Homo sapiens: one gene and its partner. The protein of the gene in region 1 purifies or fractionates together with the protein of each later gene. This does not show direct contact. Each region holds a gene or a part of one and is shown on either strand. Other genes may lie near its edges.

Region 1 (3,500 bases):
TGGTTTCTGCTGCTTGAAAACAAAGAACTCTAATTGCTGTGGTGGATTAAGAATAAACGCACTTCACATGGAAAAAGGTTCTCACTATGCGGTTCAGTGAAAAAGAAACAACAGCTGGTGCAGTAGCTTATACAATTTGATTATATCCTTTTAAGAAAAAAAATGTGAATATATCCCGTTTTTAAAAATCTATAGATATATAACAACGTTAATTCTGGATATTTCAGGGTAATGGTTTACGCGTGAGTCTTACTGTCTTGTTTCTGTGTCTGTTTTCTCATTTTCCTATAAAAAACTTCTGTATTACTTGAATTTTCAAAAATTTCATTATAGGCCCAATTACAAATAAAATTTTCTCCCCAAAATAGTTTTACTAATTCAACAGTTAATCTAATTAACAGTTTAAGCCATTCAAATCTCTTAATTTTCCCTTGTGAAGTACCGTATCTCTGCATCAGTAAAGTCTTGGGAAAAAAAAGTAAACAGCCGTGAAGAACTTCAGAAGAGTAAACACATTCTCAGGCTAAGGAAGCAAAAGTTCACGAGCAATGTTCAGTTCCAGTCAAGTCAAAAACAAAGGACTCTAGGATGAAAAACTTTTGTTGTTACTGACATGTTACTTAAAAATAAAACAAATTTCCTAACAGAATTCCACCTTAAAAGATTGAATTGACCTCAAAAGGAGACTAAAGAGACATGACAACCAAATACATACCTGATCCTAGACTACATTTATTAATGAAGGGGAAAGCAAGGCTATAAATGATTAGACGAGACAAAAATGTCATTACCAATGACTACAAGGATATATAAGAACTTTTTTTTTTTTTGAGACAGAGTCTCACTCACTCTGTCACCCAGGCTGGAGTGCAGTGGTGCTATCTCGGCTCACTGCAACTTCTGCCACCCAGGTTCAAGCAATTCTTGTGTCTCAGCCTCCTGAGTAGCTGCAACTACAGGCGCCCGCCACCACACCCAGCTAATTTATGTATTTTCAGTAGAGACAGGGTTTCACCATGTTGTTGGCCAGGCTGGTCTCGAACTCCTGACCTCAAATGATCCATCCACCTCAGCCTCCCAAAGTGCTGAGATTACAGGCGTGAGCCACCATGCCCGGCCAGGATATACAACAACTTTTATTTAACATTGTTTAAAACTATATATGCCAACTATGTATTCTCAATGTTATAAGGACAGACAAAATTTTAGGAAAACTTTTCTGAGATCACATATACAACTACACAAATCAGGATTAAAAAAAACCCTATCATTTCATTTATGCATGCCCATTTGTTGATTGCTCTAACAATACTGGGAAATTAAGTTAGTTTTCTTTTGCTAAAATAACAAATCACATTTCCCTCAAACATCAAAAACAATTTTTTAGTAACTAATGACTAGAAAAATCCCCTCCTTAAAGTAGCTTAAAAACCTGAACAGCTTAAATAGCTCACTTTATGTCATAAAGACATAAATAAGTACTAATGAGGCTTTCACACAGCCATCTGAAGTATAACAGCAATTTCCATTTTGAGGAATCTTACCCACTCTTCAAAAACCCGAGTTCAAATCTCACCTCCAGATTCCAGTTGGCTACTTACGTCCTCTTACCTTCAGTAACTCCTTGCAGCTGTCAAGCCCAATATCCACAAGAATACCTTTCACCTTTTTTCGCACCTTTCTGATGTTGTCAAGATTTTCCACAGGAATTTGAAACATTTTTGAAATTTTCCTTAAAAGGAAAGAAAACAAAACTGTAATAAGTACATGTATATAATACACAAAAATACATTTTTTGACAGGGTTGGTAAAACACTAGGAATAGAGTATAATTTTCAACAAATTGTTGTAGAACGAGTGAACATTCATATGCAAATGAATGAGGTTGACCTCTTCCTTACACCATATACAAAAATTAACTCAAAAGTGGATCACACACCTGTATGTAAGACCTAAAACTATAAAACTCTTATAAGAAAACGTAAGCATAAACATTGATGACCTTAGATTCGGCAAGGAATTCCTAGATAGGACACCAAAAAGCACCAGTAATGAAAGAAAAAATAGGTATGGACTTCACCAAAATTAAAAATTTTTATGCTTCAAAGGACACCATCAAAAAAGCAAAAAACCCACAAAACGGGAGAAAATATTTGCAAACCATTATTCCTTTCTAATAAGGAACTTATATGCAGAATACAGATAACTCTTGTATCTCAATAATTAAAACACAGATAACCCAGTTTACAAATGGGCAAAGGATCATAGACACTTCTCCAAAGAAAAATGTCCACTAAGGTACATGAAAAGATGCTCAGGCAGGGAACAGTGGCTCACGCCTGTAATTCCAGCAGCTCAGGAGGCTGAGGTACACAGATCAGGCAGACTGTTTGAGCTCAGGAGTTGAAGACCAGCCAGGGCAACATGGTGAAACCCTGCCTCTACAAAAAATACAAAAATTAGCCAGGCATCCTGGTGCGCACCTGTAGTCCCAGCTATCCAGGAGGCTGAGGTGAGGGGATCACCCGAGCCCAGGAGGTCAAGGCTGCAGTGAGTCTGATCACGCCACTATATTCCAGCCTGAGCAACAGAGTGAGACCCTATCTTAAAACAAAACAAAAAAAAATGCTCAACATCATTAGCCATTTGGAGAAATGCAAATTAAAACCACAAAGAGATACTGTGCCCACCAGGATATCTATAAAGAAAAAAAAAAGGAAACGTGTTGGCAAGGACGTGGAGAAATTGGAACTCTCATACATTCCTAATAGTAATGTATACCAGTGCAGCCAGTCTTCATGTGTGCCTGAAAACAGTCTGGCTGTCCCACAAAAGATTAAAAATATAGGTAACATATGAACCAGCAATTCCACTCAAGAGAAAAGCATACATCCACCCAAAAACTTATATAAGGATGTTCATGACAACACTATTCAGTCACCAAAATGTGTAAACAAACCAAATGCCCCTGCATTGGGGCATTTGATAAATAAACTGATGACTGGATAAATAAAATATGACATATCCATACAATAGATTATTTGGCCATAAAAGAAATGAAATACATACATGCTACAATATGGACAAACTTTGGAAATATGCTAAGTAAAAGAAGCCAGACACAAGGACCACATATTGTATGATTCTATTTATGTGAAGTGTCCAGAACAGGCAAATCCATAGAAAGCACAACAGTGGGCCGAGTGCAGTGGCTCACACCTGTAATCCCAGCACTTTGGGAGGCCAAGGTGGGTGGATCACCTGAGGTCAGGAGTTCAAGACCAGCCTGGCCAATATGGTGAAGCCCCATCTCTACTAAAAATACAAAAAATTAGCTGGGCACCTGTAATCTCGGCTACTCGGGAGGCTGAGGCAAGAGAATTGCTTGACCCTGGGAGACAGAGGTTGCAGTGAGCCGAGGTCGCGCCACTGCACTCCACCCTGACCAGTAAGAGCAAAACTCCGTCCCCAGAAAAAAAAAGCACAACAGTGGCTGCCAG
Region 2 (3,500 bases), on another chromosome or scaffold:
CCTGGGCAGCTGGGGTTACAGGCAGGCACCACCATGCCCGGGTAATTTTTGTATTTTTAGTAGAGATGGTGTTTCACCATGTTGGCCAGGCTGGTCTTGAACTCCTGACATCGGGTGATCCCTTTGCCTTGGCCTCCCAAAGTGCTGGGATTACAGGCATGAACCAACATGCACAGCTTATTTATTTATTTTTATTTTTTTGAGACAGAGTCTCACTCTGTTGCCCAGGCTAGAGGGCAGTGGCGCGATCTTGGCTCACTGCAACCTCCACCTCCTGGGTTCAAGTGATTCTCATGCCTCAGCCTCCCAAGCAGCTGGAATTACAGGCACCCGCCACCAGGCCCGGCTAATTTTTGTATTTTTAGTAGAGGCAGGGTTTCACCACATTGGCCAGGCCGGTCTTGAACTCCTGACCTCCGGTGACCCTCCCCTCTCGGCTTCCCAAAGTGCTGGGATTACAGGCCTGAGCCACTGCACCTGGCCTATTTATTTATTTATCACTCTGTCACCCAGGCTGGAGTGCAATGGCGCTATCTTGGCTCACTGCAACCTCTACCTCCCAGGTTCAAGCGATTCTCTGGCCTCAGCCTCCCAAGTAGCTGGGATTATAGGAATGTGCCACCACAGCCAGCTAATTTTGTATTTTTGGTAGAGACAGGGTTTCACCATGTTGGTCTGGCTGGTCTTGAACTCCTGACCTCAGGTGATCCACCCACCTCGGCTTCCCAAAGTGCTGGGATTACAGGTGTGAGCCACTGCGCCCAGCCACGGCCTATTTTATTTTGAAACAGGTTCTCACTCTGTCACCCAGGCAGGAGTGCAGTGGTGCATACATGTCTCCCTGAAGCCTTGACCTCCCAGGCTCAAGGGATTCTTTCACCTCAGCATCCCAAGTATCTGGAACTACAGGCATGTGCCACCAGGCACTGCCGAGATCGCACCATTGCAGTCCAGCCTGGACAATAAGAGTGAAACTCTGTCTCAAAAAAATAGATAGATAGATAGATATGGTTTGGCTATGTCTCCACCCAAATTTCATCTTGTGGTTCCTATAATCCCCACTTGTTGTGGGAGGGGCCCGGTGGAAAGTAAATGAATCATGGGGGCGGTCACCTCCATGCTGTTCTCGTGATAGTGAGTTCTCCTGAGATCTGATGGTTTTATAAGAGGCTTTACCTCCCTCTTTGCTCTGCACATCTCCCTGCTGCTGCCATGTGAAGAAGGATGTGTTTGCTTCCCCTTCTGTCATGATTGTAAGTTTCCTGAGGCCTGTCCACCCTTGCAGAACTGTGAGTCAATAAAACCTCTTTCCTTTATAAATTACCCAGTCTTGGGTATTTCTTCACAGCAGTGTGAGAACAGACTAATACACACACACACACACACACACACACACACACACATTTTATGTCTCATATAGATCAACTATTTTTTCTTTCTAAAAATTATATATATCGAGTAAATTTTTTTAATGGAGAAACAATAAAGATAAAATATAACCCTTTGTTATAATGCCTAAGGAAAAATCACAATTTATGTTTAGCTTCATTTTCATACATAGATGGATCTTGACTTTTTAACCAATCTTCAACTGTTTATATAGGTTGTAGCTAGTTTCATTCTATTATACACAATGTGGCAATGAACATCCTATACACTCACACACTCATCATTGAACATGTCATGTTTTTATTTTCCTTTAAAATAAAATCCTGGTATACCACTGGGTCAGAGTAGGTCCATGGCTCAGGTTTTGGTTTTATTTTGTTTTGTTTTGTTTTTGGTAGAGACAGAGCCTTGCTATGCTGTTCAGGTGGTCTCAAATTCCCATGGCTCAGATTTTTTATACACACCATCAAACTGCCCTCCAGAAAATCATACCTGAGTTCCAGTGCATGAGAGTGCTCAGGGTTTCAAAGATGACCACTTCTTTTGTGGGAAAAGCTTTTCCATGTTCCATAGTGATTCCAATTGGTCATGCATAGAAACATTTGGGTGAGGATGGCACTGATGTGTGGGTAAGTGTCCAGGGCCAACCTTTCAAGGGGGAAATTAGTGCCTGTCTTCATCTTCCCCTGGCTGCCTGGAGCCCTGGACCCAGCACTGTCAGGGAGAGGGGTCTGCCACTGGCCCAGATAGGATGTCAAAAGGAGGCATTACCTTAGTAGAGTCACTTCAGTCCAAGTTTGGGTTCCTTCAGCTCTGCTGCTCCAGAAACTTCATGTTAATAAAACAGAAAGGAAACAAAACATATAAAAAATTACATATCAAAAGTCAAGCTAAGTTTAATGAGTATTGAGGCTTAGTTTGCAAGATGAAAACGTCCTGGAGATTTGCCGCACAACATCGTGAATGTGCTTAACACGACTATACACTTAGAAATGGTTCAGATGGTCAATTTTTTTTTTAAAGACAGAATCTCACTCTGTCAGCCAGGCTGCAGTGCAGTGGCACGATCTTGGCTCACTGCAACCTCCACCACCCAGGTTCAAGTGATTTTCATGCCTCAGCCTCCTGAGTAGCTGGGACTACAGGTGTGTGTCACCACGCCCGGCTAATGTTTGTATTTTTAGGAAAGACCAGGTTTCACCATGTTGGCCAGGCTGGTCTCGAACTCCTGACCTCAGGTGATCCACCTGCGTTGGCCTCCCAAAGTGCTGGGATTACAGGCGTGAGCCACCGCACCTGGCCAAAAATGTTTAAAAGTGAAGCTAATCCTTTGAGCTGGAGCTGCAAGGTAAAAGACAACAACAACAAAAAAGTGAAGCTAAGCATAATTTTGATGATCAAATGTAGTATCTTATTCTCACCTTACTGCAATGTCTGCCTCCCAGACTCAAGCAATCCATCCACCTCAGCCTCCCAAGTAGCTGGGACCACAGGCACTTGCACCAGGCCTGACTAATGTAGTATCTTATTCTAATAAAAGAGAATCTTATCTGACAGGCGAAAAAATTTAAAATGAGATAATAAAAATAATACAAAACCAAAAAAAGGAGAAAAAAAAGAGATAATCTTAGACATTTTTTCAAATAAGATATAAAGATGGCCAACAAGCACATTTGGGATGTTTAACGTCATTAATCAATAAGAAAAGGCAAATCAAAATCACAATGAGGGGCTGGGTGCGGTGGCTCACACCTGTAATCCCTGGACCAGCACATTGGGAGGCTGACGCAGGTGAATCACGAGGTCAAGATACCGAGACCATCCTGGCCAACATGGTGAAACCCTGTGTCTACTAAAAATACAAAAATTAGCTGGGCGTGGTGGTGGGCACACACCTGTAGTCCCAGCTACTTGGGAGGCTGAGGCAGGAGAATCACTTGAACCTGGGAGGTGGAGGTTGTGGTGAACTGAGGTGGTGCCACTGCATTCCAGCCTGGTGACAGAGCAAGACTCCATCTCAAAAAAAAAAAAAAAAAGGGAAAAAAAGAAAATTACAATAAAGTCCGGGCACGGTGGCTCACGCCTGTAATCCCAGCACTCTGGGGGGCCAA

Evidence for each region. The genes of interacting proteins can lie anywhere in the genome.
Region 2: the proteins of ADNP2 (region 1) and GDPGP1 purify together in Homo sapiens (affinity purification with mass spectrometry; one large-scale study listed by BioGRID and IntAct). This does not show direct contact.

Annotation. Positions count from the first base shown.
Region 1 is NC_000018.10:80,115,762-80,119,261, reverse strand, and holds part of ADNP2 (activity-dependent neuroprotector homeobox protein 2), read right to left. Parts: intron 1,733-3,500; 5' UTR 1,720-1,732; coding exon 1,612-1,719; intron 1,596-1,611; exon of another isoform or gene 1,577-1,595; intron 1-1,576. UniProt on the Homo sapiens protein: May be involved in transcriptional regulation. May play a role in neuronal function; perhaps involved in protection of brain tissues from oxidative stress. May be involved in erythroid differentiation.
Region 2 is NC_000015.10:90,237,209-90,240,708, reverse strand, and holds part of GDPGP1 (GDP-D-glucose phosphorylase 1), read right to left. Parts: intron 2,218-3,500; 5' UTR 2,161-2,217; intron 1-2,160. UniProt on the Homo sapiens protein: Specific and highly efficient GDP-D-glucose phosphorylase regulating the levels of GDP-D-glucose in cells.